Regions from separate parts of the Homo sapiens genome. Here regions 1 and 3 are each linked to region 2. The links come from fine-mapping of genetic effects on gene expression. A gene starts in region 2. Each other region holds a variant in brackets. All regions are shown on one strand. Distances are between the middles of the regions.

Region 1 (11,188 bases), 28 kb after region 2:
CCACGCACCCCACAGCACCCTCCACCCTGGTGTGCTCGAGGCAGTCTCATGGGGCTTGCTCTTGCTAGTGCAGGAACAGAGGCCCCAGGGCCATGTGCTATGTGGTGACGTGGTAGACAGCGCAGCCCAATATCTTTTGGAGGCCAAACTGGTGACCAGTGTGGTCACTGATGAGGTCAATGGCCCCAGGTGTCCCTTCTCCTCACTCACTCACCCGTCACCGATATATCTGTCACTAGCCTTGGGGGAGCCCACATAGGACCCCAGGCTCCCCCTCAGCCTGCTGCTGCCTCATGGCCAGGCCCAAAGGGAGAGCTCACCAGGCTGAGGACTGGAGATGGAGGTGGTGGACATGGCCCTCTCCTTCTGCTTGAAAATCTCCCTCGGGTGCACGGCAGACTCCTGGAGGGAAGCACATGTTGACCCCTGCAGTGGGCAAAACCTTCACCACCTCTCCCCAGATCACAGCCCCTCCAGCTGTCGGCCCAGTAGCCCCTCAAAGGTGAGTGTGGGGCCAGGAGGCAAAACATGTTCTCAGGAGAGAAGTCATTTAAAAATAAAAAGTAACGTTAAAAAAGGAAGTAAAACACAGAAGCCAAGGGGCTCCCAGGGCCTCCCCCAGGACCAGGTGTGGTCCAAGCCCGACGCTTCCGCCTTTGGCTTTCCTCTCTACTGCCACCTCTTGAGGTGCCCAGATTCCAACCTGCCCCAGCTGACTGCAGGGCAGCCTCTGCCCAGGTCTGGGCTGGGCCCTCAATCCGAGATCAGGGACTTCTGCGTGTGGCCAGGACAGGTCCAAACAAGTAGAGCACCCCCATCTTACCTGCTCATTTCGGTTCCTTGAAACCACTTCTTGCTGCTGCTCCCACGTCCTGCTGGGAAGGGCCGGGTGGGGCACAGCTGAGGCACAGTCACAGCTTCTCATGCCACACCCCTTAGTCCTCCTCGCCTCCATGGGATGGAGCAGGTGCCCAGCAATGCCTCAGGGTGGGTCCCCCAGGCCAGCCTCCACCTCTGGCTCACCTCTGGGGGCTGGCCTCGCCACCCTGCTCCTGATAGCGCTGCTCCCGGCGTGCAGCCTCACGCAGCTCACGCTCCCGGCGCTCCTGCTCCAGCTGCCGCTGTGCCTCCTCGGCCCGCCGCTTTTCCTCCAGCCGACGGTTCTCCTCCTCCTTCTGCAGGGAGAGCCACTGCCCGCTCAGCCCTATGCTGCCACTTCAGCCTAATCCCCTGCCCAGGACTGAGTTTTAGGCACATGGCCAAAGACGGGCACCAGAGCCAGTCGATCATTAGCCTTGTGGCTTAACTTACCCGAGCCTCAGTGTGACCATCTGTAATGGGCACCAAGGAGAGTGGATGCTGCATGAGCTCACTTGTGAGGAAAGATGAGCCACAGCAAGCAGAACACTCCCACGTGCCCAGCATGCCCCGGGGCAGCACTCACCTCTGCTTTGGCCCAGAAGCTGTCTTTACCAACCCTTTTAATCTCAGACACGGCATTGGTCTTCTGGTACACAGAGCCCTGTAGGGGACAGCACTCATTAGAGACCTGGACCCAGGTGGAAGGCCAGGCCCACAGGCACCAAAGGAGAGAATACGCTAAACTTGCGACAGCACAGGTGAGTGCTGCTAGGACTGGACCCAGCAGAGGCAGCAGAGCACTGCCCAGTGACCCTCAAGGAGACACACACCAAGATGACCTGAAAGAAGCCCAGGACACTGCCCCAAGGGGGATGCTCAATCCCAGACAACACTAGAGGGGTCTCTGGTGGTCTCTCGCCCTCATGGATGGGGGCCAGGGCAAGAAAGGCCCCCATACCCCACCTGCAGACTCCTAGACATTGGGCAGTTCTGAGGCAGGCCTCTGACCAGGGGCACTCAGACAGCTGACTACCACAAGAGCATCCAAGGAATCACGTCCAACCACACGCATGCGGACGCAGCTCCCAGCCATCAGCTCCACACAGCACTGGGGCCACAGGCCCACAGGTATCTCCCGTGACTCCAAGGGGCCTGCTCTGGTTTCAGGCTCCGCCTTGATGCCTCCTTTAGTTCCTCCACGGTGGCTACCTCCAGGGGCAGCCCAAGATGTTCCAGTGCCATGACCTTGAGGGCAGCCAGACTATCATAGCCATGCATGCTGCAGAGCCTCCACTCTGACCACACAGGCTGGGCTCCAGAGGAAGGCTCCAGAACAGCTAGTCCAACCCCTAGGCAAGGTCAGAGGGCTATTCCTGCTCATCTGGTCAGTGGGCAATCACCACAGCTCAGGGGTTACCATCTGCAGAAACTAAGCAGGCATGGGCCCAGCCAGCCCGGGTGCTGGGAAGTGCATATTCCTGGCCCCCTGCCTCAGGCCCTGAGCAACAAAAGGGCTGGCGATGGGCAAGCAGCACTCACCACTGGGGCCTGGGGTCCCACGTCCTGGAAGCGGCCACTCTCCTTGTGAAAGCTGTAGTTGGCACCTGAAGCCTTGGCCACCTTCTCCATGATGCACTCAGGCTCCACATCCTCCTCGGCCCGTGCGTTGATGGTCACATGGGCCCCCTGCAGCAGGAGCAGCACTTGAAAGAAGGGCTTTGCAAGCCCAGGAGATGGGCCAAACTCCTGTCAGTCCATACAGCACGGGCCACTACTATACCACACAGGACTGGAATCAGGAAACTAGAAGGCACCTGTCTGGCTGCTGAAAACTGAGGCACGAGTTCCCCTCAAGGGCTCAAACAAACCAACTTGGAGCAAACCCCTCATTCTTGTCCCAGTTCACGTGAGACCCTTGACCTCCACTGTGCTATCCAGTGGTTCCTTCTGTAGCTGTTCCCTGCTGTGTATCAATAGACAGCCCAGGCATAATTTGCATCAAAGGCCTTCCTTCTAATCAATGAAAACTAATTTTAAATGCCATCTGGAAGCCACAAAAGACCCTGAATAGCTAAAGCAATCTGAAGCAAAAAGTACAAAGCTGGAGGCTTCATGCTACCTGATTTCAAATTAAACTACAAAACTACAGTAAGCAAAACAGCATGGTACAGGCATAAACACAGACACAACAATGGAAACTAACAGAGCACTCACACACACAGCCAACTCATTTTTAACAAAGGTGACAGGAACATACACTGGGGAAAGGACGGTCTCCTTCATAAACAGGGCTAGGAAAATTGGATATCCATATGCAGAAGAATGAAACTAAATCTTCATCTTTTACCATATTAAAAAAAAACTCAAAATGGGTTAAAAAGACTTAAATGTAAGACCTGAAACTATGAAACTACTCAAAGAAAACACTGGGTAGATGCCCCTGGACATTGATCTGGGCAAAGATTTTTTTTGGGTTAAGACCTCAAAAGCCCAGGCAACAAAAGCAAAAATCAACCAATTGGACTACATCAAGCTAAAAGGCTTCTGCACAGCAAATGAAACAATCAACAAAGTAAACAGACAACCTACAGAATGGGAGAAAATATCTTCAAACTATCCATCTGACAAGGAATTAGTGACCAGAATATATAAGGAACTCAAACAACTCAGTAGCAAAAAAATAATAATCTGATTTTAAAATGGGCAAAAGACCTTAACAGATATTTCTCGAAAGATGATATACGCATGGCTAACTACATACAAAAAAATGCTCAACATCACTAACCATCATCAGGGAAATGCAAACCAAAACCATAACGGGCTATCATCTCACCACAGTTAGAATGGCTATTATAAAAAACATAAAAAATAAATGCTAGCAAGGATGTGGAGAAAGGGAAATTCTTATACACTGTTGGTAGGAATGTAAAGTAGTACAGCCATTATAAAAACAGTATGGTTTTTTGGGTTTTTTTCTGAGACAGAGTCTTACTCTGTTGCCCAGGCTGGAGTGCAGTGGACAATCTCGGCTCACTGCAACCTCCACCTCCCAGGTTCAAGAGATTCTCTGCCTCAGCTTCCTGAGTAGCTGGGATTACAGGTGCCCGCCACCACACCTGGCTAATTGTTGTATTTTTTTAGTAGAGACGGGGTTTCACCATGTTGGCCAGGCTGGTCTTGAACTCCTGACCTCAGGTAATCTGTTCACCTTGGCCTCCCAAACTGCTGGGATTACAGGCGTGAGCCATCGCGCCTAGACAACAGTATGGTTTTTAAAACAGTATTTTAGTCCTACTAAAAGCAGAACTACCATATGATCTAGCAATCCAGCTGCTGGGGATATATCCAACTCTGAAGTTCAGCGCTATTAACAATAGCCAAGATACGGAATCAACCAAAACGTCCATCAATGGATGAAAGGGTAAAGAAAATTTAGTATATAAACATGAGGGAATATTATTCAGCCATAAAACAGAATGGCATCCTGTCATTTGCAGCAACATGGATGGAACTGGAGGTCATGATGTTAAGGGAAATAAGCCAGGCACAGAAGACAAGTATTGCATGTTCTCACTCATGTGGGAGCTAAAAAAGTGGGTATCATGGAGGGAGAGAGTAGAATGCTGGTTACCAGGGGTTGGGAAGGGCATGGGGGAGAGAAAATGAAGAGAAGTTGCTTAACAGGTACAAAAGTACAGTTAAATAGAAGGAATAAATTCTAGTATTCAATAGTACAGAAGGGAAATTATAGTTAACAATAATTTTGTGTATTTCAAATTAGCTAGAAGAGAAAAATTGTAATGTTCCCAACACAAAGAAAAGATAAATGTTTGAGGTGATGAACATGCTAATTACCCTGATTCATCGTATACATTGTATACAGGTATCAAAATATGACATGTATGCAAAAAATATGTACAACTATTATATATCAATTTATAAAAACTCTGGGCCAGGTGCGGTGGCTCTCGCCTGTAATCCCAGCACTTTGGGAAGCTGAAGAGGGCAGATCACTTGAGCTCAGGGATTCCAGACCAGCCTGGCCAACACAGGGAAACACCATCTCTACTAAAAATAGAAAACTTAGCCGGGCATGGTGGCAGGCACCTGTAATCCCAACTACTCAGGAGGCTGAGGCAGGAAAATCACTTGAACCTGGGAGGCAGAGGTTGCAGTGAGCCGAGATCGTGCCACTGCGTTCCAGCCTGGGTGACAGAGTGAGACTGTCTCAAAACAAACAAACAAACAAAAAACAAAACAATTAAAAAAAACTCTGATAAAAGAATGCCATGCATGTTTTCTACAAAAAGTAAGCCAATGATTTCTTCATAAGAAGCCAGACCCATGACGTCATTCACTGTTGCTATACAGGTTGAGCATCCCTTACCTAAAATTCCAAAATCTGAACTGCTCCAATGAACATTTCCTTTAAGCATTATGTCAGCACTCAAAAAATCTCAGATTCTGGGCTGGGCGTGGTGGTTCACGCCTGTAATCCTAGCACTTTGGGAGGCCAAGGCGGGC[A/G]AATCACGAGGTCAGGAGATCGAGACCATCCTGGCTAACACAGTGAAACCCCGTCTCTACTAAAAATACAAAAAATTAGCTGGGCGTGGTGGCGGGTGCCTGCAGTCCCAGCTAATCGGGAGGCTGAGGCAGAAGAATGGTGTGAACCCGGGAGGCGGAGCTTGCAGTGAGCCAAGATCACGCCACTGCACTCCAGCCTGGGCAACGGAGCGAGACTCAGTCTCAAAAAAAAAAAAAAAAAATTCAGATTCTGGAGAATTTCGGATTTTGGATGCTGAACTGAAAACATTCCCAAATCTGAAAAAATCCAAAACATTTCTGGTCCTAAGCATTTCAGATAAAGGATACTCAAACCTGTATATCGATAAGCTGGGAATTCTCTTATCAGCTCCTAGATGGAAACTGAGGTATAGCTGAAGAAATGTTGGCAGAACGAGAAATCAAAATTCTGAGTCTCCTTTGCCAGAGAAATGCAAAAAGTTACCTGACAAGTGACCAACAAATGCTTTTGTTACAAATAGTTTTTAAAATTTAAAAAGGTTCTATTATAGGACTGACATAACTCCATGTAGAGGGGGCTGGAAAGGAATGCATCAAAAGGGCACATGCGTGCTAAGATGGTGGGCACTCTCCCCTTCCTCCAAATCCTGACGGTATTACTAAACTGTTTAGAGGGATCATAAAACAAAACAGAACCAGGGCCCACCCTTCTCACGGCACCAGCTCCAGCATAGTCCTTTATCCTGCCCCACTGAGGCAGGCCTGTAGGTGGCCCTGGCAACATCCTGACCTCCCATGCACTCACTGACCGAGAGTGAAGCAGCCTCTGGTCATGCCCTCAAAGGCAGGCAGAGAGCATTAGCTATGAGCACACTCCCAACTCCAGTTCTGATTCCCACTTGCTCGCACCCAGGAACCTGCGAGACCTCAAGCCTGTGAGGCCTGTTCCCAGTGAAGCGGGCCTCACCTGGCCTTACCTTCAGGAAGCTGGCCATGGTGCTGACGTGGCTGGCACAGGCTCCCTTCCGCACATCGTTCACGCCCTCGCCTGTCTGCAACACAAGGATGCCCAGGTTGACCCAGGCCTCCCCCAAAGCCACTTCCCTTCCCTGGGGACCCAACATCTACCCTGTGTCCCAGAAAAGAGAAAACTGCAACCCCCAAAGCAGAACCTATTCTTCTGACTGCATCACATGGGTGAGGTAAGTTCCCATGCCTCCAAGGGGCTCATGGATTCTCCCTGGGCAGGATGGCTACCGGCTTTCGCTGTGGGGGCATTTCATGAATTTTCTTTTTTTTTTTTTTTTTGGAGATGGAGTCTTGCTCTGTGGCCCAGGCTGGAGTACAGTGGCGCAATCTTGGCTCACTGCAACTTCTGCCTCCTGGGTTCAAGCAATTCTCTTGCCTCAGCCTCCTGAGTAGCTGGGACTACAGGTGCACGCTGCCATGCCCAGCTAATTTTTTGTATTTTAGTAGAGATGGGGTTTCACCATGTTGCCCAGGCTGGTCTCAAACTCCTGAGCTCAGGCAGTCCACCCACCTCGGCCTCCCAAAGTTCTAGGATGACAGGTGTGAGCCACCCCACCCAGCCTTCAAGAGTTTTCTTGATCCCCACCAAGGGATCAAGGAGGCCCTGTCCCTGTACTCCCAGGCTCCTAAACACTCCCTCAGGCTCTCTACTCCATCAGAACAACCACCCTCAAGAGCACGGAGCAAGGACTCCCTGTGACTGCTTTTAATCCATTTTGCAGGAAGAACTCTAGGCTTGGAAGGTGAATTCTGCATAGCAAAGCCACAGTTATTCTTTGGGCCACAATGAATCTGTCAACTATTCTGCTCATTCACCAGCTCAGAGCTGTTCTATTGATCTACTAAGTCATGCCAGTAAAACACTTTGTTCCTGAAGTCAAGTCAAAACAGGAAAGAAGACAATGGGGTTTCCTGGGTCACACCTAGATGAAACAGGCTCCACATACCCAGTTGATGAGGACAAATTTGGGCAGTCCAGAGTTGGGGTCCTTCACTCTGCAGAAGGCGTACATCACCTTCCCGCTGTTGAGCTCCTCCACCATCTCCTCCAGGCCACCCTCTGCAGCAGAGTCACAGTGAAGGTCAGGGGTGGCCCTGACATTCCCTGCTGGCCCTGGTCCCACCATGAAGGGAGGCCGAGCTGCTTCTAAACCAGGGCTTCTCACCTCTACCTGTATCAGAATCTTTCTAGGGGTATGTTTAAAATCAGAGTCCTGGGCACCACCCTCACTAAACTGATTGATGAGAGCTGGGTGGGACCTAGAAGTCTGCGATTCTGACAAGTACCTCAGGTAATTTTTTTTACCCACACTCGTTTAAAAACCACTTCTCTAAACCCAGAGGTAATTCTGGAAATAAAAACAGGGTCATTTCCACGGCAAACCAGCCACCAGACTTCCAAATGGAGGATGGCTACGTCAAAATTTTATTGTTGCCACAACGTTGCAAAAGGGCCCGGAATAGCAGGGCCTGTAGAGTCACCACTGCCTGCACCTGTGTCTGCTCAAGTTCCAGGGCCACCCAGACGGCCAGACCAGATTGAACATCCTGCAGTGGCGTAACTGGCTCAGTCCTCAGACTCCAGAAGAGAGGGTGATGGGGACAGGGGGAGCACAGGAGTGGGCAGCTCTAAACAATTCTCCCTGACACTGAGGCTTAGCCCTCACAAACTTTTCCAGGTTATAAGGAGGAAGAGCTGATCAGGTATTTCATCTACAGGGCTCCGTATGAGTGGAGGCAGTCATGAGCCCCACTCTGGGGACAGCAAATTGTTGCATTTGTGGCAGAGCCCTGTCCTGTGCCACTGGGGATGACAGGAAACTCTCAAGTTGTTGATCTCTGCAACTCCCAGTCACCTGCCACACCACATGTCTACTGTTCAATGGCAATCCTTCTAGAAAGGGGACACCTCCCAGAAAGATTGTGAAAGGAAGGGGCTTTCTACCAACAACAGACATCAAACCGTGGAGAACCACTCCGAGTGTTCATTGAACAATGAAGCCATGTCCAGCTCAGGACAGAGGGAGGGGTCAGGCAACTTCTGGAGGAGGAGCAGTCACGGGTGTCAGCTGAGGGGCCCACAGGTCACACTCTGACGAAGCCTACCCTGACAACCTCTGCTCTGTGCTGGCCAAGAGCCTGTCCTTCCTGTAGAGACCTCCAGAGCCTCCCCCGTGACTATCTGCAGTGATACTGCCTCTCCCAGTGAGGATGGGGCCCCTGCAAGCACTCGGCACAAGACCAGGGCAGGACAAAGGGAGAAGAAGATATGTCTGTGGACTTTCTTTCCACCAGCACCAGTTCTGGGACTGGTGAGCTTCCCACCGCAGCTCCCAACGCAGGCTGCCCACAAGCTGGAGAGGCCTGTTTCCCTCTCAGCTCTCCCCAAGTAGACAAAGAGAAAGCACTCCCCTGCACCCAGAGGGAAGGAGAACCAAGGAGGAATGTTTTCACTTACACATATCTGAAACCTAAGGCCTGCCAGAAGTGGCCAGTGAGCACTGGAAGCCCCATGTGGCTCAGTGGACCAAGACAGCTGAGTGCGCTGACCCCTCGTCGTCACCCTCCTACCTCCTGGTGTCCCTGAGTCCATTTGGAGTCATACTCACCCCCTGTGCCAGCCACGCGGATGTCATTGCTGTTGCCTTCATAGGTAAAGAGAGCCCTGAAACGAAACACAAGTGAGCTCTGTAGCCAGCACCTTGGGTTCCATCTCTCCTCACCGTATCCACCATGACTTTCCACTACATCCCAAAGAGCTTGGGCTGACAGTAACACTGTGGGTGGGCACAGGCCCGTTCTCACTTTGCTCTGACCCACTAGGCAGGTTCTCAGTAGGCAACTGTGCAGCCTTCTCAGCTCTGCAGCTGGGAGGACACTGGCCTGACTTACCATGGGGTGGGGGTTGTGAGGGACAAAGCCATGGAGATGGGAGCACACATCTACTATGAGGAAAACATGAGCTGTGGAGTTTCCCAATGACTGCTATACATTCATGTGTCAAATACTCACCTGGCCACTAGGTATATGGATTTGAAGAGACAAAACATATCTACATATTCCTGAACCCAGAGCACCCAAAAGGAGAAGCAAGTCGGAGAAATACACACACTGGGCCCCTTGGAAGGCTGCCCACCACTCCTGTGCACGTCTGCCCTGGCTCCAGTGAAGCCTGGTGGGTAGGGCAGCAGGTCCTTCCAGGCTTGAGACTCTTTGGTAAACACAGACTACCACAGGTTGTGTTTATCAGAAACCACAAAGGAATGACACGACATGAAATCACACAGTTAAAGCCATGAACCTGCCAAGCCCCTCACGGACAGGTACCCATGAGCAAGTTTTCTATCTAGCAGAGCCTTATCTCTCCATGGGTGACATGGGGCCATGGCTTTCTTTTCCTGAAAGATTAATTATTCATAAGAACTTTGGGCTGGGCGCAGTGGCTCACGCCTGTAATCCCAGCACTCTGGGAGGCCGAGGCGGGCAGATGTGGATCACGAGGTCAGGAGATCGAGACCATTCTGGCTAACACGGTGAAATCCCATCTCTACTAAAAATACAAAAAATCAGCTGGGCGTGGCAGCAGGCACCTGTAGTCCCAGCTACTCAGGAGGTTGAGGCAGGAGAATGGCATGAACCCGGGAGGCGGGGCTTGCAGTGAGCCAAGATCGCGCCACTGCACTCCAGCCTGGGCAACAGAGTGAGACTCCATCTCAAAAAAAAGAACAGAACTCTGGGCCAGGTGGGTGGCTCGTGTCTGTAATCCCAGGACTTTGGGAGGCTGAGGCAGGAGGGTCGCTTGAGCCCAGGAGTTTGAGACCAGCCTGGGCAACATGGTGGGACCCTGTCTCTACCAAAAATACAAAAATCAGCCAGGCGTGGTGGCATATGCCCGTAGTCCCAACTACTCGGGAGGCTGAGGTGGGAGGATTGCTTAAGCCTGGGAGGTCGAGGCTACAGTGAGCCATGATGATGCCATTGTACTCCAGCCCAAACAACAGAGTGAAACCCCAACTCTTAAAAACAAAAACAAAAACAAAACTCTGGTAAAGATTCATTCTGGCTTGCTAATAGCATGAACCTTGCAGCAACTGAACATCCCCAGCAGGGCTGCTGGACATGGGCTGGAGGCACTGACCCACTGGACTATAAGTCAAAGGCAAAACCCAGTCCAGTGTGTGTCATCTCCCCAGGCTCTAAAGCACAGGCCTGCTGAGGCAGGCCAGACAGAAGCTCCAGGGATAAACAGTCGGACAGGAACCAAATCAGCTTCAACTTGGCTTCCCCAGGGCTTTGCCAGTGCCACTGGGCAGAGATACTTATGCCTCAGAAAAATGGAAGAAATTAGACCCAGGCCCAGTGGATCTGGTTGGTAGGGAGGAGACAGGCCTCCGGGAAAAGGCACTCCTTACCAGGAGGGGAGACAGAATACAGGAGAGAAACACTGAATGAGAAACACTCAGAGAAAAGGAACTAGAGAAAAGAACACAGAAAAACAAGAGAAAGATTTGGGAGGTGGCACACTGCCAGCATGAGCTGGGGGGAACTCCCTGGAGGAAAGAAGCCCATTCCTCTTGATGGCCACAAAGCCCTGGCTCCCAGAAGATAGCAAGCTGGCACAAGCAGCAGGTAACAGAAGATGGCAGCTCAACCCAGCTCTTGCAAGAAGGGACTCAACCAGCTGCGATGGCTCATGCCGGTAATCCCAGCACTTTGGGAGGCCAAGGCGGGTGGATCACCTGAGGTTAGGAGTTTGAGACCAGCCTGGCCAACA
Region 2 (11,188 bases):
TCGGCTCATTGCAAGCTCCGCCTCCCGGGTTCAAGCAATCTCCTGCCTCAGCCTCTCGAGTAGCTGGGATTACAGGCACCCATCATCATGGCCGGCTAATTTTTGTATTTTTAGTAGAGATACGGGTTCTCCATGTTGGCCAGGCTGGTCTTGAACTCATGACCTCACCTGATCTGCCACCCCGGCCTCCCAAAGTACTGGGATTATAGGCGTGAGCCACTGCGCCCAGCCAGCACCAGTTTTTAAAAGTCAGGCTGAGTGCGGTATAGTTGCCATACTGTAAAATTCACCCTTTTCAGTTCATAATTCTATGAATTTGACAAACACAGTCTTGTAACCTGTAACTCCCACCACAGTCAAGATAGAGGACATTCCATCACCCCCAAATGCCTTCAAACTCTTTGTAGTCGACCCCAGCTCCCAGCCTTGCCCATCACTGGTCTGTTTTCTATCCTATAGTTTTGCCTTTTCCGAGTTGTCATATAAATGGGATCAGAGCATATGTGTCTCCTGCCACTTAGCATGAGGCACTGAAGACTCACCCAAGCTGCTGCATTACCGGTTCCCTTCATCTCAATGTTCCTTAGCATTCCATGGGATGCACACACCAGTGTGTGAAGCTGTTCCCTGGGTCAAGAACATCTGGAGTGTTTACAGTTTTGGGTGATTAAGAGTAAAACTTCACAGAATCATTTTTAATGGCTGCATAATATTCCACAGTATGAACACAGCAACATTTATTCCACCAGCTCTTGGTCACTGGATATTCAGGTGGTTCTCAGCTCTCACTTTTACACGCGTAAGCTTCTTGTCAGGGTCTCCATCTCCCTGAAGGGTCCCCTCCCTCTAGAGCAGTGAATCTCAACCTTGGCCACACATCAGTCACTGGGGAACTTTAAAAATGCCAATGTCGGCCGGGTTTGGTGGCTCATGCCAGTAATCCCAGCGCTTTGGGAGACTCAGGTGGGAGGACTGCTTGAGGCCAGGAGTTTGAGACTAGCCTGGACAACATAGTGAGAGCCCCCATCTCTACAAAAAATAACTTAAAAAAATTAGCCAGGCGTGGGGGCACATGCCTGTAGTCCCAGCCACTCAGGAATCTGAGGTAGAAGTACCACTTGAGCACAAGAGCCAAGAGTGATTGTGCCACTGCACTCCAGCCTCGGTGACAGAGTGAGACCTTGTCTCTAAAAAATTAATAATAATAAATAAAATGCCAATGCCCAAGCCATATCCAGACCAATTAAACTGGATTATTTGGGGAGGGGCCTGGGCCTAAGTATTATTTGGAGCTCTTAGGTGTACCCTGCTCCACTGTACTCTGGAGAGGGGATGGTCTGGACCTGTGGGGGGTGGCCACTGCTGCCCCTGTGGCAGTCCCTCTCCCTCCCCAGACCCACTCCTCACTGCCTTCCCACAGTGACCACCACAGACAAGTACAGGGAAACCAGGCCCATTGAAGATGGAAACTCAAAGACAATTTCCAATGTGCAGGAGATAATCTAACCATCTCCTTTCAGTGGGATCTTTTCCATAGCTCAAGGGCCACCCTCTGGGAAGGGCAACTCCTTCCAAGTGCCTCTTGGACACACCCAAGTCCTAACCTGCCCTCGCGACTATGCCTCTTGTTTAAGCTGCAAAAGCTACCTCCAGTCCTGGGGATATTCTTGGCCCTAGTATGGCTCCCCACTGCGCCCCACCCCCATCTTCCAGTGGGACACCCTCCCTCACCCCTCCTCCAGCAGGTATACCTCCCACATCCTCAAGCAGGGACCCCCTCCCCAACCATCCTCCAGCAGGGACACCCCCTCACCATGTTCTCCAGTGGGGGCACTGTTGCAGCAGAGAAAGTTTTGTAATTGCAGGGCCAGACAAGCAAGGAGGATGAAAGATAATTCTCAAAACCACCTCCCCCAGAATTCAGAGGCTAGTGTTTTTAAGGGTGCTTCAGCAAGCAGGGGACTAGGGAGCTGAGACAACTGATTGGCAGTGGATGAAATCACAGAGGTATCAAAACTATCTTCAAGCAGCTGAGTCAGTTTCTTGGTGTGGGTCACAGGTCCAGGTAGTGTCTCTTGGTCTGCTAAAATTCTAAATCTAGAAAATATCTCAAAGTTCTTTAGGTTTCATAATAGTGATTTTTTTTTTTTTTTTTTGAGACGGAGTCTTGCTCTGTCTCCCAGGCTGGAGTGCAGTGGCATGATCTCAGCTCACTGCAAACTCCACCTCCCAGCTTCAAGCAATTCTCCTGCCTCAGCCTCCTGAGTAGCTGGGATTACAGGCATGTGTCACCACTCCCAGCTAATTTTTTTGTATTTTTAGGGAGATAGAGTTTCACCATGTTGGCCAGGCTGGTCTCGAACTCCTGACCTCCAGTGATCCACCCGCCTTGGCCTCCGAAAGTGCTGGAATTACAGGTGTGAGCCACTGTGCCCGGCCTCTATATGAGCAGCTGGAGAAGTTAGAAATCTTGAGATTTCCGGCTATGTGACTCCAGGGCAGTAAGCATTATAGAAAAGCAAGCCAAGTGAGAAACGGCAGGTCGCTGTTTATGCCCATTCTTTAGCAAAGTTCAGGCCCCACCACAATTCTAACCTTGTCTTATGAATGTGGTTTCAATCTCCAAACAAGGAGGGGGTCAGTTTTTCTTGCCTTTAACTATGAACTAAATTCCTCTCATAGTTATGTTGGCCTCTGCACTACAAGAAGAAGAAGAAAAAAAAAGAAATAAGAAAACCAATTTAGTCTGTGAGGTTAGATGCAAGAGGGAGGCAGTCATGTTAGATTTCTCTCATGACTTACAATTCTGCAAAGGTGGTTTCACCTCCACGGCAGGCCACCTCTCCCTGGGTATAGGGCACATCTTCGTCCTGCAGAGCAGGCAAGTCCCTCTCTCTCCCCACCTCCTCACCCCTTCTTGCCCCCACTGGCCAATCTTCATGAATCCTTCAGCCCCATGTTGTCCTAGCAGACACTTTGCAGCAACCACTCAGAGGGCCTGGCTGATTTCTAAGCTAGGCAGTTTCTTCCACTGTCATTTGGATGAGATTCCTTGCACAAACATTTTTGCACAGTTGCCCAGTGTTTTAAGTATTCAGGTCTCATAGTCTTAAAAACTGCCTCTGCCTTCCCAGGAGAGAACAAGGGCTCCAAGGGGAGCCCAGGTGCTCTGGCCAGACAGAGGACATTAAAAGGAACAGAAATGGTTTTAGACAGCTAGAGGGATCTGCTCAGGGGATATTTGGGCAGAGCCTCCTCCTTGAGAAGGGTAGGAGCCAGATCCACAGACGAAGACCCTTAGAGCCTGCCCATCCCTGCTGGCACAAGGGGAGGATGGGGAGAGAGGGACCATACGCAGGCCTCCTGGCTTCTGTATGTGGGTCCTGAGGCCCAGGAAGCTCTACAGCCCTGAAGAGGTAGATGAATTAGGAGGCTGGGAGATGGTGTAGGAGGTCAAGAGGATGCCTGGGCTGAGCCATCTCCCCCACTCCCCTCAGCCCTGTGCTCTGAGTGCAGAGATGGGGAAGAGCCAGCCCACTAAAGATGTCAGAGAGGAGCCAAAGAAAAAGGATAGGTGCTCAAGGAGTCTGGGGCTCAAGACTGAGGACGATGGGGCAGTGATGAGGAGAGGCATGTGGAAGGGGGTTGCATCTGATCTGGTGTCCCATCAGTTAGGCTGAGCAGTGCCACACTACCGTAACAGAGGTTACAAATGGAGTATATCTAAATAAGATAGACAGAAGACTTGATATTATCAAGACATCAGATTTCCCCAGCTTGATCTATAGATTCAATGCAATCCCAATCTTGGGAAAGGAATTGCTGGATCAATGTGTATTATTTTGTTTTCATTTTGTTGGATGTGGTTGCCACATTGGCTTCCACAGTCCTTCCTATGGATTGCCAATTACCTCGCACCTTCAACATGTGTGGTCAATTTTTTTGAATGTTTGATAAACCCACAACTGAAGATATTCTCATTTAGGTATTCTGTAACGACTGGACAGGTTGGGCACTCTGGTCATAAATTTATTGACCAGGATTTCTTCTAAGAATCATCTACGTGAGTTTTTTTGCTAATTTTTCTATTAAATTATTGTCTTTTTATCTATGGACAATTTGATAAGATTATCATGAGATAATCTTAATTCCAAAATATCTCACACTTTATCCCAGTTTATCTTCTGACTCTAATTTTTAATCAGATTTAAAATTTGTCTGTAGTCCAGTTTATCATTCTTTTCCTTTAGTGTTTCCAAGTTTATTGTGATATTTAGATCATAAAAACATTCACCGACTTTTTTCCAGTACGTTGTTGGTTTCCTTTTTAGATGGAAATGTTTGACCCATCTGGAATTTATTTTGGTGTTAAGGAATGAGGAAGGGCACCAACTTCTATTTTTCCAAATGGCCTGCCAGTTGTCCTAATGCCATTCGACTGAAAAATCTTCCCGCGTGTTTGAAGCGACCGCCCCACCAGCGCATTGGAAACCCGCGTGTCGGTCCTGCGCCCGCCGGCTTCCGTGTGACAGTCCCGAGCGCAGAGGGATCGGGCACAGCCCGCACGCGTCCGCCCCGAGCCGCCGGCTCAACCCTAGACCCAGCCCCGGCGCCAAGGACACAGCCCACCCCGCTCCGCCCGGGCCTAGGTCCCAGTTCACCCTCCCTAGCCGGGGACGCCCCCTTGACCCCGCCTCCTCCACCCCCTCCAACACCCTCCCCGCCCCGCTCCAGCCCAGCCTCTCCTCCCGGAGGCCAATGGGGCCGAACAGCGCTTTCCGAGACATTAATTTAAATAAAAGGCGGGTCCTCTGCCGTTATTTGCATGGAGGCGGGTCTTCCGGAGCGGCCGGGACACCCAATCCTGTAGGAGCCCGGACCCTCCCCAGCGCTCCGACTGGCCCAAGTAGCGAGCCCCACGGAGAGGCCTCATTTGCATAGGGCGGGGCCACGTCCTCTTCCAGCCGGCGGCCGCCCGCCCGCCCACCCGCTTCCGTCAGCCTCACTGGGGCTTCCTTCCGTCTCGCTCGGAGTTTCCCTCTGCGTTCGCTCCGCGCTGCTGGAGGCTGTCGTCCCAATGCTCCCCAAACGGCGGCGAGCGCGGGTCGGGTCCCCTAGCGGCGATGCCGCTTCCTCCACGCCGCCCTCGACGCGCTTCCCGGGAGTCGCCATCTACCTGGTCGAGCCTCGCATGGGTCGCAGCCGCCGGGCCTTCCTCACAGGCCTGGCGCGCTCCAAAGGCTTCCGCGTCCTTGACGCCTGCAGGTGCGGGGCGGCGCGGCGCGGCGAGGGCTTCCATGGCACTTCTGGTTTTGGATTCTAAGTTTGCAGTGGCACTTCGTGGTCTTGTGACCTTTCCCTGAGCCTCCATCTCCTCTTCTGTAAAGGGTGCTATTAATTAGGGCGAGGCGTGTTTTAAAGGATCACTGCGAGAATCAAAACCAGAGGTCAGGGGTAATTAATAAGCAGTAGGCCGGGCGCGGTGGCTCACGCCTGTAATCCCAGCACTTTGGGAGGCCGAGGCGGGCAGATCACGAGGTCAGGAGATCGAGACCATCCTGGCTAACACGGTGAAACCCCGTCTCTACTAAAAATACAAAAAATTAACCGGAGGTGGTGGCGGGCACCTGTAGTCCCAGCTACTCGGGAGGCTGAGGCAGGAGAATGGCATGAACCTGGGAGGCGGAGCTTGCAGTGAGCCGAGATCGCGCCACTGCACTCCAGCCTGGGCGACAGAGTGAGACTCTGTCTCAAAAAAAAAAAAAAAAAAAGTCGTATTTGCTAACAGCCCTTCTGCCTGGGCTATGTCCCACCTGTGAGCGAGACTGACTTCTCAAGAGGCCCGGAGCCCGCAGGCTCCTCTGTCCTCAGGCCTGAGTAAATAACACGACTGAGAAGCTCTTGTAGGAAGGGAACCAAGAGAAGAAAAAATGGCGGCTACAGAGACAACACCCAGAGTAAGGGAGCTGGGGGTGCCCCCTAGTTTGGAGGTTGAGAGAGCAAACGAACCTGGGGCTAGTATTCCCCCACAGTTGTGTTTGATTTTTTAACATTACCAGGGATCAGTAGTGCGCCAGACCCACTCAGGAGAGGATGATAGCAGCTTAGAGTGTACAAGGCACTATCTTTGTACAACAACCCCACAGGGTGGATATGTTATCTCTGCTTTACAGAAGAGGAAATCAAAGTATAGACACGTGGCTTGCCCAAGAGCCAAACAAGTATGTGGCAGGCAGAGCTGGGGTTCAGACCCAAACAGGCTCCTCCATCTCTGCTGAAACCCTTGCTCTTAGATGAAGACCACCTGGTCCTGACCCTAAGGAATTCCTTTCTTTGAGGTGAAGAGGGAGGGAGAGAGCACAAGACTGGGCTGTGCTTGTGAACATAGCCAGGGCAGAGAACTACGGTTCTGAGGGCTGAGTGGTGGAGGTGTTCATCTACCAGGAGGAGGGGCTGGGAAGGCTTTCTGGAGGAGGTGACGTTTGCAGGATGAATGGTCACTTACCATGCAGAAGGGACGGCAAGAGTGAAGGCTTGGAGCCAACCAGGACGGGCTCTGGGCCTCACCCTCCTCCTTCTCTCCCAACTCCCTCCACCAGCTCCGAAGCGACACATGTTGTGATGGAAGAGACCTCAGCAGAGGAGGCCGTCAGCTGGCAGGAGCGCAGGATGGCAGCTGCTCCCCCGGGTTGCACCCCCCCAGCTCTGCTGGACATAAGCTGGTTAACAGAGAGCCTGGGAGCTGGGCAGCCTGTACCTGTGGAGTGCCGGCACCGCCTGGAGGTGAGCTGGGTGGAAGACTAAAGTGGGGGCTACAGTGAAAGCCCCAGTGTAGGCCATTGCTCAGCTGGGACAGGTGACATGGCAGCAATGCCTCAATGTCCTTCAGAGGAGGTGGGCAGTGAAGACTCTACCCAGATCACCAGGGGCCCCCTATAAACCAGTAGAGGAACCACAGAAGGGGCTGAGGGGGCCAGGCCATCTCAGCTTCTGTTCTCACCACTGATGCAAATTCTGGGGTCTGCTTATTTTTACCTTCTTCAGGCCTTTCTTCCTCACCAAGTAGATGACACAGCAACTCCGAGCGGGATGACCCATGGGTTAGCAGGAGCCTGTCCTCTGGATGCTATAAGGCTCCCGGCCTCTGACAGGTGTGGGCTTGGGGCCAGGTTGCCTGCCTTCAAATCCTGGCCCAGCCTGTGAGCCATGGTTGTGGGGCAAGCCCCTAGCCTCCAAGGCCTCAGCATCCCCAGCCCGCTTGGTTGTGAGGATTGGGGTGATGGAGTACATGCATCATGTGCAGCAGCAGGAGAAGTGCCCACAGGGCTGGCAGATGTGATTGCTGCTACCCTGGCATGAGGAGCCCCATGCACAGCCTGTTCTGCAGGGCGGTGCCTCCCTCAGCCTCATGCCGCTGGTGTTTTGTTGCCCACCTCTGTCCCATGAGCTCCAGAGGGCCCGAGTTGGACACCCCAGGAGAAACAAAGCCTGAGTACGGCCTGGCTCTCCTGCCAGCCCTGCAGCCTCACAGTGACCTGTTTATTGCCCATCCCCAGGTGGCTGGGCCAAGGAAGGGGCCTCTGAGCCCAGCATGGATGCCTGCCTATGCCTGCCAGCGCCCTACGCCCCTCACACACCACAACACTGGCCTCTCCGTAAGCCGCTTCTATGAGCCTTGGCCAGCCCTGGGGGTTGGGGACAAGGGTACAGATGGGTGGTAGGTGGGGGATTGGAGCTGCCCACCCTGCCCCTTACCTAGGGCCCCTCCCTGCAGGAGGCTCTGGAGATACTGGCCGAGGCAGCAGGCTTTGAAGGCAGTGAGGGCCGCCTCCTCACCTTCTGCAGAGCAGCCTCGGTGCTCAAGGCCCTTCCCAGCCCTGTCACAACCCTGAGCCAGCTGCAGGGGCTTCCCCACTTTGGAGAACACTCCTCTAGGGTTGTCCAGGTAGGTGCTTACCATCCTAGCAGGGTGAGTGGGTGGGTGGGGAGGCCTTGGGGCCTGGTGAGACAGCAGAGGGTGCTGTGGGGGTGGGTGAGGACAGACAGTCGTGGGTGCTGACACTGCTCCAAGGCCTCAACAAGCCACCCTCTGCGCTCAGATTCCTCCTGTGCACACTAGCCATTTACTCCTGGGTGGCCTAGAGGACCCAGTGAATGGCGCTGTGAGGGGCCTGGCAGGGCTAGGGGTGACACTGTTGTCATTGTCATTAGTCCCAAACTGCCCTCCACAGTGGAATGAAAGAGAGCACCCTGAGTGTGAGCATCTCTTTTCAGTGCCCCAGTGTGTTTAGTTGTCCTTTAGTGCACTTTCATTGCAAGAATACACAGTGACAGAAGATGCTTTTAAATGAAGTAGTATTGAGTTCACATGTTCTGAAAAGCAATTGTTTATGTATCTTGGGACTTATTTGACTGAGAGATGATCCACGTTACCTGGCATCTCAGCTGCTGTAACTCCAGGCCCGAAGGAGCTTTGAGGCTGGAGCCCTGACCTCCCAGCTGTGTGGCAGCAACTTTGGTCACCTCCCTGGGCACAGTCTCCATTTCCAGGTCCTACTGGACCCTGACCTCACAAAGTTGTCTCTGCCGGGTGTTGGAGGGGACTGCCTCAGTCCTTGGGCCCCCAGCCCTGACCCTAACTCCCCGCCCTTCTCTTTCTTCCCACGCCCTCAGGCTTAGAGTTCTGCTTTGTTCCCTCCCCCAGGAGCTGCTGGAGCATGGAGTGTGTGAGGAGGTGGAGAGAGTTCGGCGCTCAGAGAGGTACCAGACCATGAAGGTGCGCAGGGCAGGGCTCGGACCTACCCCAGGAATGTCCTGCCCTGGGAATGACAACACAGTCCACACCATGCACGGGGAGGCAAACAGGGGCAGCTGACCCAGCCCAGGGGTCAGAGAAGGTCTTGCCGAGGAAGTGGCAGCTAAGCTGATACCTGATATGCACAAGGCAGCCAAGTGGAGACAGGCAAGGAAGAAGCTTGTTTTGAGGACAGAATTTTCTAGATCACTCAGCACCATCTGGCTTTTGGGGCTTTTTGTTTTATTTTGTTTTTGAGACAGGGTCTCGCTCTGTCGCCCAGGCTGGAGTACAGTGGTGCGATCACAGCTCACGGCAGCCTTGACTTCCTGGGCTCAAACCATCCTCCCACCTCAGTCTCTGGAGTAGCTGGGACTACAGGCATGTGCCACCACACCAGGTTAATTTTTAAATCTTTCTCGTAAAGATGGGGTCTTGGTAATGTTGCCTAAGCTGGTCTCAAACCCCTATGCTCAAATGATTCTCCTGCCTTGGTCCCCAAAATGCTGGGATTATAGGCATGAGCCACTTCGCTCTGCCTTGACTGTTTTTGATGGAATATTCTCAAGTAGATTACATGCTGTGGCATCTTAAACAGAGCACTGTGAACCAAATGTACCCTTGGGTGCTGCCACTGAGCATGCTGGGCTTGCCCTTGCCCGCCTTCTGCAGGACCTTATGTGTTATTTTCTCAGTGTTGTCAGCCTGCCTGTTTCCATGGCCACCTTCCCTCTGTTTCTGCTCACTCCTGGTCTGATAGGGAAATGCCGTCTGAGTTCTTTTGGATGCCTCGGGTGTGCCTGCTTTGACACCCTTCTGCCAACTGGCTTTGTGGCTGGAGGTGTCACAGCGGTGGCCACATGGATAACTGTCAGTGAAGTGTGGCTTCCTGGGTGGATGGGGCCTTGGGAGGTCACACAGAATGTTGTCAGGATTGACAGGGAGGGCTTCGAAGAGGAGAGACTTGAGCAGTGTGTGCAGGGCAAATGGGCTCAAATATGCAGGGAAGGGGGCAAGGGGCACTGGCAGGGACAGGGGACCAGATGAGTGGGGCCACCGTGGTGAGTGTGGGAGTGAGGGGCCTGAAGATGATGAAATCCCCTTGAAGTGGTGTGAGGTTAGTGAGTACTTTCACTGTCAGCCTCAGCCCCAGCCCTGAAGGCATCTAGGCTGGCAGAAAATTACATTAGTAATGAGAAGTTTATTAACAATATAATTGGGTTAATCTCATCATTTTTAGTCAGGATTCTTTGGGTTGCAAGTGACAGTGACCCACCCCACACCGTTGGTTCACAAAATAAAGGAAAGGAGGGCCAGCAGAGCCCAGGATGGGGAGGGCTGTGGCCGGTCTGCAGGACAACTGGGCTCAGCGACCTGGGTATCACCAGGCCACTCCTCCTCCCCTCTGCCCCTCTGCACGGTGGCTTCGCCCTCTCTTGCGACGCACCAGCTTCTTCCATCGGTTGGAAATGTGGCCACAAAAGGTGCTCGGCTGCCACAGGCTACAGCTTCTGCCACTGTGTGGGCCTGCCCTCAGTCTCAGATCCAGAATTCCTAGGGAGGGACTCTAGTGGCTGACCTGAAGCAGGTGACTTGCTTGGGCTGGGGCCCACCCTCTGTGGGAAGATATGTGAGCACCCCAGCCAGCCCTGCCAACTCTGCTCCTAAATCCACCCTTTTGATTGTTAACTCCTCATTGTTTTTTGCTGTTGGCTAAGGAGGAGAACCACAGAAATTTGTTCCACCTTCTGTTAGGTGGGAGAGGCATGGTTTTTCCAGTGACTTAGGAGCCCCTCGTGCTGATGTGTTAGGGTGACTGTTTTGATTATGTTGGAATCACAGGCTAGAGCTGTGTAAGTCCCTTTCATAGAGGAGAGGAGAGGGGTGTGCGTGGGTTTGTTCCCAGAGACGGCAGGCTGGGTAGTCAGGCTCCAGGTTTGAATCCTTGCCCTGTGGTCTACGGCAGGTTGCGAGTGGGGACGGCGCCTGCCTGGTGCATGGTGCTCCATGGGCCACACCGTCCCGGAGCGGGTGATCATCCGAGTCTAGCCATGAGAGCTCTGCCCAACCGGGCTACGCTCCTTCCCCACAGCTCTTCACCCAGATCTTCGGGGTCGGTGTGAAGACTGCTGACCGGTGGTACCGGGAAGGACTGCGAACCTTAGATGACCTCCGAGAGCAGCCCCAGAAACTAACCCAACAGCAGAAAGCGGGTGAGCCCTCCAGAGAGGCTGGGCCCTGGGCTTCCCTAAACTGCACCCTGGATCCCTCAGCATCAACTCCCTAGAGGGAAGGGAGCAGTCTGGTGCAGAGGGTTTGGTGGCAGCTTTGTGTGGTGGGCTTCCTGGGGTCTCCACCCAGTGCAGTCAGGATCTATCAAAGCCTTTTCTCAGT
Region 3 (9,828 bases), 120 kb after region 2:
AGGAGTTTGAGACCAGCCTGAGCAACATAGCAAGACTCCATCTTTTTTTTTTTTTTGAGATGGGGTCTTGCTCTGTCACCCAGTCTGGAGTGCAATGGCGCAATCTTGTAGCTTCTCCATCTGGGCCTCAGACCCTCCTCCCAGCAGCCCTAGGGGAGGGCCACTCTCTTCCCGTTTTAAGATGGGGAATCTGGCTGGGTACAGCGGCCCACGCTCATAATCCCAGCACCTTGGGAGGCTGAGGTGGGAGGATTGCTTGAGGTCAGGAGTTTGAGACCAGCCTGAGCAACATAGCAAGACTCCATCTTTTTTTTTTTTTTTTTTTTTTTTTTTTTGAGATGGGGTCTTGCTCTGTCACCCAGTCTGGAGTGCAATGGTGCGATCTGAGTTCAAGTAATTCTCCTGCCTCAGCCTCCTGAGGAGCTGGGATTACAGGCATGCGCCACCACACCTGGCTCACAGGGTGAGACCCTGTCTCTAAAAACAACAACGACAAAAATGACACAATAGTGAGGGCACAGGCCCCAGGTCACTGACTTAGATTCTAATCCCAGCTCTTCCAACTGCTGTTTCTTCACCTGCTGAGCCTCAGTTTCCCCATCTGTCATTGGGGATACCAGCCCCTGCTTCACGGGTGCCTAGGGGATTCCCAGGAGATTATGGAGGTGCCTCAAGGTGCCTGGTAGGGCTGAGGGTGGAGGGTATGGGGGTTCAGGGCCGTGTCCCTGGCTGAGCTGACCCCACAGGTTTCAGCGGGTGGGCCCACCTGACGGAGGTTGACCCTGATGAGGAGGTGCAGGGCGAGATCCACCTGCGGCTGGAAGTGCGCCCAGGGGCCCGGGCCTGCCAGCTACGCTGCTCTGTGCTGGAGGCCAGGTGAGACTCAGGGGCCTGGGGGCGGGCAGTGGGTCCCCTGCAACTAGAGAAACCCAATGAGGAAGCTGAGCCCCCCCTCGCCCCACCTCTACCTCCTGGTCCCAGAGCTGGCCACCTCCCATCAAAGCCTGCTCTCAAGAGAGGGTCTCGCCAGGCACAGTGTCTCACACCTGTAATCCCAGCACTTTAGGAGGCCGAGGCAGGTGGTTCACCTGAGGCCAGGAGTTCAAGACCAGCCTGACCACCATGGTGAGACCCTGTCTCTACTAAAAATACAACAATTAGCCGGGCATGGTGGCAGGCGCCTGTAATCTCAGCTACTCAGGAGGCTGAGGCAGGAGTCTTGAACCCAGGAGGCAGAGGTTGCAGTGAGCCGAGATGGCGCCACTGCACTCCAGCCTGGGTGACAAGCGAGACTGCATCTCAAAAAAAAAAAAAAAAAAGAAAGAAAAAAGAGAGGGTCTGGGGAGGTTTTCTGGACTTGAAGATGCTTCTTGGGTGATTTCCACTCAAGGGGATATGTCCCTTAAGGGACAGTCTAATGTTCTCATGGAGGAACTGGAGCCATCACAGAGGAGTGGAGTAGGGGGTACGGGTGAGGAGACCCCGAACTCTGATCACACAGCCTCAGTCCCCCAGTGCTAAGGCCGGCTTCCTTATGTTTAACGCCAGTGTGAACTTGGCCTGGTGGGAGTGTGTGTAAGTGGGTCCCTCGTGGGGCTGGGGGGGTGAAAAGAGTTGCTGAAAATCTCCCGATGGGCAAATTGAGGGTTCCCCCAAGGAGGGACAGTGGTTTGGATGGTTCCATGGGCCTGAGTCACCTGTGACAGGGCCACCCCCCAACCCCCAGGGTATTTTTAGCTGCAGGCTGCACTCCCGTCTGGGCCTGGGTCTGAGTCACACTCTGTCCGTGAGAAGCGTCTTCCCTTCCAGCTCCAAACCCACCTCCCCAAGTTGCTCCCTGCCTGTGAGGCAGGAGGGTGGCCCCCAGCCAGGCAGCCCTATGGAGCCAGTGTTCCCCCCACCCTTGAGGGGTCAGCCTGTCTAAGAGGAAGACTTCCCTTGGGCAGAGGGGTGTGGGTCGGATGATGCCCATGTTGCTCACTCTGGCTTCCCGGGAGTTATTTTCTGTCCTGGGAAAATAGAAATGGATGGAAAATGTCTGGGCTTGGGCCGAGCCTCAGCCACGCCCCCACACTCGCTCACTCTCTGGCCCTGCCATTCATTCCCCCCCGCCCCACCCCAACTCACCTGCTTCTTCCATCCTTATCCTTTCTGGGCACCAGGCTGTCTGGGGGACAGGCATGCACACGTGTGCACCCGCTCACACACGTGGCCGGGCTCTGGGACCTCGGGGCCACTTCTCCCAGGCACCCATCGTCACCCACGGAGATGGGAGGCATGGAAGCATGTCTCCCTGGCCCTCCCCTCTCTCCAGGAATCTCCCCTCTCCCATCCTCTGGGGCCACAGTGGTTGGCCTTCTAGTGAGTCCTAGCAGGGGAGAGGAATGTCCAGGCCTCTCTCAGAGTGAGGGGACTTGTCCCCCGTTGTCCTCGGCAATGAGACTCCTGCTGCAATTCCAAGTCAGCCTAAGAAGGTCCATTTGCTGCAGAGGAAGAAAGAACATTTCCTCCTTATTTTTTCTGGGGAGATTCTCAATATTTCAGTAAAACCTTGGGGTTTTTTTGTTTTTTGTTTTTGAGACAATCTCGCTCCATCATCCAGGCTGGAGTGCAGTGGCCCGATCTCAGCTCACTGCAACCTCCACCTTCTGGGTTCAAGCAATTCTCCTGCCTCAGCCTCCCTAGTAGCTGGGATTACAGGTGTGCACCACCACGCCTGGCTAATTTTTTGTAGTTTTAGTAGAGACGAGACTTCACTATGTTGGCTAGGCTGGTCTCAAACTCCTGACCTCAGGTGATCTGCCTGCCTCGGCCTCCCAAAGTACTGGGATTACAGGCGTGAGCCACTGCACCCGGGCTGTTTTTTTTTTTGGTGTTTTTTTTTTTTTTGAGGCAGTCTGGCTCTGTCGCCCAGGCTGGAGTGCAGTGGCGTTTTCTTGGCTCACTGCAACCTCTGCCTCCCCAGGTTCAAGCAATTCTCCTGCCTCAGCCTCCTTCCCAAAGTGCTGGGATTATAGGAATGAGCCGCTGCACCCAGCCTCAATGTTGGGGGGTTTTATTAGACAGTCTTGAGGGGGAAGAAAGGCAGGTATGAGAGGCTTAAAATATCGAAGATGAGTGGGCTTTGGTGTTCTTCCACAAAGAGTTCTAAGTAGGGGATACTGGCAGGGTGCAGCGGCTCACTCCAGTAATCCCAGTGCTTTGGGAAGCAGAGGTGGGAGGATCTCTTGAGGCCCGGATTTCGAGACCAGCCTGGGCAACAGCAAGATCCAGTCTCTACAAAAAAATTTAAAAATTAGCCAGGTGTGGTGGGGCACACCTATAGTGCCAACTACTTGGGAGGCTGACGTGGGAGGATTGCTTGAGCCCAGGAGGTGGAGGCTGCAGTGAGCTATGATTGCATCACTGTACTCCAGCCTGAGCAACAGAGCAAGACCCTGTTTAAAAAAAAAAAGAAAAGAATAAAAGGGCCAGGCGCGGTGGCTCACGCCTGTAATCCCAGCACTTTGGGAGGCCAAGGCAGGCGGATCACCTGAGGTCAGGAGTTTGAGGGCAGCCTGGCCAACCTGGTGAAACCCTGTCTCTACTAAAAATACGAAAATTAGCTGGGCGTAGCGGCAGGCCCCTGAAATCCCAGCTACTTGGGAGGCTGAGGCAGGAGAATCACTTGAACCCAGAAGGCGGAGGTTGCAGTGAGCTGAGATCGTGCCACTGCACTCCAGCCTGGGCGACAGAGCAAGACTGTTTCAAAAACAAAACAAAACAAACAAAACAAAAACATATGTGTGCAGGTATCTTTTTTGTATAATGACTTCTCCTCTGGGTAGATATCCAGTAGTGGGATTGCTGAATCAAATGGTAGTTCTACTTTTAGTTAGTTAAGGAATCTCCGCTGTTTTCCATAGTGGTTGTACTAGTTCACATTCCCACCAGCAGTGTAGAGGTATTCCCTGTTCACCACATCCTCATAGTCAGTACTGTTCTGCTGTGTGG[C/G]CTCGGATACATCTTTTCCCCACCCTGGGCCTCAGTTCTCCCCATCTGAGAAATGGGTGGGAGCTTGGACAGGACATTTTAACCTCTGCTGTGGCAGAACCTCCAAGGCGAGGAGGCTGTGGGGAACCCAGGGGAGGTGTCTAGGGCAGCTCTGCCTTTTGCCCAGCCTGGGGAGTCCAGTGGCATCAGCCTAACCCCCTCCCACCCTCCTCTGGGCAGATCATGAAGAAGTCATGCTACCCACGCTGGAATGAGACGTTTGAATTTGAGCTGCAGGAGGGGGCCGTGGAGGCGCTGTGCGTGGAGGCCTGGGACTGGGACCTTGTCAGCCGAAACGACTTCCTGGGCAAAGTGAGCACCACCGCCCCGCCCCCCCTCCTCCCCCGGCAGGCTGCACCTGCTGTCCCCCAGCACCTGGCTCCATTGCAGCCATCCCATCCTCAGGGACCTCCTTCTGGCTTCCCCAAAGAGGGACACTCAGGAAGCCTGGGACTACCCCCCCACCTCCACCGTCTGCCAGAACCAGCAACTTCCCCCCACCACCACTGGCACTCAGGGACCCTTGGAAGAGGCCCCTCCCCACTAAGAACAGTAGTTGGCAAGGAGGAGACCTAAGTCTCCCAGCTCCAGGAAAACTGCCACTATGTCCCCAGGTGGTGATCGATGTCCAGAGACTGCGGGTGGCGCAGCAGGAGGAGGGCTGGTTCCGGCTGCAGCCCGACCAGTCCAAGAGCCGGCAGCATGACGAGTAAGTGCATGGAGCTGGGCAGCCGGCCTCAAGGGGTGGGGTGGGGGCTGACATTTGGGAATTGGCTACAGGCAGGCAGGGCAGGGGGGCTGCTCAGGGGTGAGAGGTCAGGAGACACAGCTCCAGGGTCCCCTCAGCCCCTGCCCACCTAGCCAGCATCCTTCTCATCCCGGCTGGGCTCCACCTCCCCTTTATTTATTATTTATTTATTTATTTATTTATTTATTTATTTATTTATTTATTTATTTTGAGATGGAGTCTCACTCTGTCCCCAGGCTGGAGTGCAATGGCGTGATCTCGACTCACTGCAGGCTCTGCCTCCCAGGTTCACGCCATTCTCCTGCCTCAGCCTCCCAAGTAGCTGGGACTACAGGCACCCGCCACTGCGCCTGGCTAATGTTTTGCATTTTTAGTAGAGACAGGGTTTCACCATGTTAGCCAGGATGGTCTCGATCTCCTGACCTGGTGATCCACCTGCCTCGGCCTCCCCAAGTACTGGGATTACAGGCATGAGCCACCGCGCCCGGCCCCTCCCCTTTATTTTTCCCCACAGTTCTGCATTCAGCTCAGCTCTGTCTTCTGTCTTTTTTTTTTTTTTTTTTTTTTTTTTGAGATGGAGTCTTGCTCTGTCACCCAGGCTGGAGTGCAGCGGCACAATCTTGGCTCACTGCAACCTCCACCTCCTGGGTTCCAGTGATCCTCCTGCCTCAACCTCCTGATTAGTTGGGATTACAACTGTGTGCCACCATGCTCGGCTAATTTTTGTATTTTTAGTAGAGACAGGGTTTCACCATGTTGGCCAAGTTGGTCTCGAACACCTGACCTCAAGTGATCCACCCGCCTCAGCCTGCCAAAGTGCTAGGATTACAGGCATGGGCCACCAAACCCGGCCAGGTCTGTCTTCTTAGCTCACAGGTTGTACAGGTCTCCTGCTTTCTGCCTCTGGAAGTTTCTGAAACAAGTACTCAGACATTTTCCCTTTGAAAATTTCCCTGCAGACCTCAGACCAGGGTTCAAGTCTCCAAGGTCAGTGTCCCTGAGCCATAGCTCCAACTCCCTATGCCAGATTCTCCAGGAATAGGGTTGTGAGATAAGATAGGACACCGTTGGCCAGGAGCGGTGGCTCATGCCTGTAATCCCAGCTCTTTGGGAGGCCAAGGTGGGAGGATCACTTGGGGCAAGGAGTTTGAGACCAGCCTGGGCAAGAAAGTGAGACTCTGTCTCTACAAAGAAATAAAAATTAGGCCAGGCTCGGTGGCTCACGCCTGTAATCCCAGCACTTTGGGAGGTCGAGGTGGGCGGATCACCTGAGGTCAGGAGTTTGAGACCAGCCTGGCCAGATGGCGGGCGCCTGTAATCCCAGCTACTCGGGAGGCTGAGGCAGGCAGAATTGCTTGAACCCCGGAGGCAGAGGTTGTAGTGAGCCAAGATTGCGCCATTGCACTCTAGCCTGGGTGACAAAGCTAGACTCTGTCTCAAAAAAAAAAAAAAAGAACACCCAGTTAAAACTTAATTTCAGATAAACAGTGAATAATTTTTTTTTTTTTTTTTTTTTGAGCAGCATCTCACTCTGTCACCTAGGCTGGATGGAGTGCAGTGGCATGGTCTTGGCTCACTGCAACCTCTGCCTCCCAGGTTCAAGCAATTCTCATGCCTCAGCCTCCCGAGTAGCTGGGATTACAGGCATGCACCTGTACCACCAGTGCAGTGGTGATCATAGCTCACTGTAGACTCCACCTCCTGGGTGCAAGCAATCCTCCCACCTCAACGTTCCGGGTAGCTAGGACCACCTCACCTGGCTAATTTTTTGTAGTTTTAGTAGAGATGGGGTTTCACCGTGATGGCCGGGCTTGATGTTGAACTCCTGACCTGTGCCCGGCTGTGAATACTTTTTTAGTATAAGAATAACCGCTGGGCGTGGTGACTCACACCTGTAATCCCAACACTTTGGGAGTTTGAGGCGGGTGGATCACTTGAGGTCAAGAGTTCGAGACCAGCCTGGCCAACATGGTGAAACACCGTCTCTACTAAAAGTACAAAAAATGGTGGTGGGCACCTGTAATCCAAGCTACTTGGGAGGCTGAAGCAGGATAATTGCTTGAACCCAGGAGATGGAGGTTGCAGTGAGCCGAGATCCCACCACTGCACTCCAGCCTCTGTGACAAGAGCGAAACTCCGTCTCAAGAAAACAGCTGGGTGCGGTGGCTCATGCCTGTAATCTCAGCACTTTGGGTGGCCGAGGCGGGTGGATCATGAGATCAGGAGTTCAAGACCAGCCTGGCCAACATGGTGAGGCTCTACTAAAAATACAAAAATTACCCGGATGTGGTGGCGGGCACCTCTAATCTCAGCTACTTGGGAGGCTGAGGATGGAGAATTGCTTGAATCTGGGAGGTGGAGGCTGCAGTGAGCCGAGATCGTGCCACTGCACTCCAGCCTGGGTGACAGAGCAGGACTCCATCTCAGCAAAAAAAATAAATAAATAAAGAAGAAGAATGACCATGCACTATTTGAGACATACCTATACTAAAAATATTCAAATTTAGGCCGGGTATGGTGGCGCATGCCTATAATCTCAGCACTTTGGGAGGCCAAGGCAGGAGGATCACTTGAGCCCAGGAGTTCAAGACCAGCCTGGGCAACATAGCAAGACCCCATCTCTAAAAAAAAAAAATAAGTAAATAAAATATTCACATTTAACTGGGTGTCTTGGGTCGTTTTGCTAAATCTGGCAGCCTGTCTAGGAAGCCCTCTGGCTTGTTTGCTGTGGCCCACAGCCCTCAATGGTTCAGCTTTGTGTCTCTGTGGAAGGCCCCAGACCCCCACTCCCCCAGTTCCCATCCTTAACAGGGTAGGAGCAGGTGGACGGCTGTGTGTCCAGCACAAGGTGTTTCCATAGAACCAGCCAAGGCCCATCTTGCCATCTTATTTTTTATTTATTTATTTTTTTTGAGACAGAGTCAGGCTGGAGTGCAGTGGTGCAATCCTGGCTCACTGCAACCTCTGCTTCCTGGGTTGAAGCGCTTCTCCTGCCTCAGTCTCCCGAGTAGCTGCGATTACAGGCACCTGCCACAATGCCTGGCTAATTTATATATATATATTTTAATAGAGATGGGGTTTTGCCGTGTCAGCCAGGCTGGTCTTGAACTCATGACCTCAAGTGATCTGCCTGCCTTGGCCTCCCAAAGTTCTGGGATTACAGGCATGAGCCACTGCGCCAGGCCCAGGGGCCCATCTTAACACTGCTCTGTGCATGAGGCTCGTGCTGAGCACGGGCAGTGGGAGCCTTAGAGGCTCCCACTTGGTCCACACCCTCCTCTGTTCTGAACTTCCCTATCAGAACAGGGAAGCTGGGAAGCTCAATCTAATGTGGCAAGTTGCTGAACTGGCTCGGGTCTCAGTTTCCCTATTAGGTTGTTATGAGGGTTGGGGATTTGCTTCTGCTGTAAAGTGTACCCATGATGGTGCCATTATCTGGGAGTTGATAGATTCAAGGCTGGCAGCTCCACATACCCAAGCTTGGAGGTGGCAGGGAGCCACACCTCGAAGACAGATAGAGGTGCCTTGAGTGCAGAGACAGGAAGGGCTTTCCAAAAACAGAAAATAAATAGCCCGGGCAGAGCCTGGGAGGCAGAGCTGTGCAGGGCACCCGGATGGAGGGCATGAGCAGAGAGATGGGAGGCTGGCCCCAAGGGAAAAAACTGGAGGCCATGGGAGCGGTGTGGTCCAGGGTGGCCTGAGTCCCTGGTGGAGAGGTCACAGGCTGCCCATTCCAGGGGCAACCTGGGCTCCTTGCAGCTGGAGGTGCGGCTGCGGGACGAGACGGTGCTGCCCTCCAGCTACTACCAGCCACTGGTGCACCTGCTGTGCCACGAGGTCAAGCTGGGCATGCAGGTGAGGGGACCTGGGCAGGGTGGGAGGGTCCAGTGGCAGTAGGCCTGTGCGCCTGTCCTTCCAAACCCATTCTGCAGAGCAGAAACCTGAGGTCTGGGGATGTGAGGAGCTGGCCAGTGTCCAGGGCCCCATCCCCAGCCACCCCTTGGGAAAATGTCCTCTTTCCCTGGGATGCTCTGAGGTCCTCAGAGGGAAAGGTTCGGGATCCCCCGTGCCTCTCCCTGCAGGGCCCAGGGCAGCTGATCCCACTCATCGAGGAGACAACCAGCACCGAGTGTCGCCAGGACGTGGCCACGAACCTGCTCAAGCTCTTCCTGGGGCAGGGGCTGGCCAAGGACTTCCTGGACCTGCTCTTCCAGCTGGAGCTGAGTCGCACCAGTGAGGCCTGGGAAGGAGCTGGGCCCAGAACGCTGGGAGGTGTTTGGGGGTGGGTGGGCTCCTCCTGTAGGAGGCAGATGGGGTCAGACAGGAGGGAGGCAAGGAACAGAGCCAAGGGCAGAGGTGGGACAGTGGGCTGGGAGGTGGCGAGGAGGCCCTTTATTGAGGGGCCAGCTTAGATCCCCCAGCCCCAAGGTCCTCTGTCCTCCCCCTCCCCCAAAAGCTTTGTCCCAGCCCCCTACCCACTGGGACCTCTGTTTGTAGTCAGAGTTTGTTTGGCTACTTCCTTTGCAACCCCCACCCCCAACCTTTTTCTGCATGGTAGATGAAAAATTGAAAGTACCTCTGATTGGTCCCTTTCCACAACCAATGAGGCTGGTCATGGGCCAAGTCTTCATTTGCATAGGAGTATAACTTTGTAACTTCACTTCAGCCTTTTCCCAATCAATCAGAGATTTGCATAGGGTGTAACTTTGAAACTTGCTTCAGCCTCTGATAGGTCCCCTCCCTCAACCAATCAGACTGATTGTGGGCACTACTTCATTTACAAGGGTGTACATCAAGTAACCAATGGGAAACCTCTAGAGGATATTTAACCCCCAAAAAATTCGGTAACCAGGCTCTTGAACCACTTGCTCAAGCCACTCCCACCCTGTGAAGTGTACCTTCATTTTCAATAAATCTCTGCTTTTGTTGCCTCATTCTTTCCTTGCTTTCTTTGTGCATTTTGTCCAATTCTTTGTTCATGACACCAAGAACCTGGACACCCTTCTCGGGTAACAAACCCACTTCTAAAATAATGGCATTAATCCATT

What was found.
Region 1: its variant is fine-mapped to the expression of POLM in whole blood (TOPMed, PIP above 0.99).
Region 3: its variant is fine-mapped to the expression of POLM in thyroid (GTEx, PIP 0.99).

What each region holds. Positions count from the first base shown.
Region 1 is chr7:44,048,116-44,059,303 of GRCh38, reverse strand. DBNL (drebrin like) reads right to left here. Exons shown (of 13, transcript NM_001014436.3): 2 at 9,024-9,079; 3 at 7,362-7,474; 4 at 6,363-6,437; 5 at 2,401-2,547; 6 at 1,445-1,522; 7 at 1,024-1,175; 8 at 824-872; 9 at 321-402. It overlaps MIR6837 (microRNA 6837), which reads right to left and starts at 7,538; the gene lies at 7,475-7,538. The variant A/G (reference allele first, on the strand shown) is at 5,386.
Region 2 is chr7:44,076,328-44,087,515 of GRCh38, reverse strand. POLM (DNA polymerase mu) reads left to right here and starts at 4,986. Exons shown (of 11, transcript NM_013284.4): 1 at 4,986-5,265; 2 at 6,600-6,783; 3 at 7,557-7,655; 4 at 7,775-7,945; 5 at 8,705-8,776; 6 at 10,887-11,007. The coding sequence starts at 5,078. RefSeq lists a silencer at 4,421-5,000 and enhancers at 4,712-5,212, 7,052-7,959.
Region 3 is chr7:43,960,780-43,970,607 of GRCh38, reverse strand. It overlaps the pseudogene POLR2J4. Among named protein-coding and RNA genes, the nearest start is that of SPDYE1, 32 kb to the left of the region's middle. The variant C/G (reference allele first, on the strand shown) is at 3,994.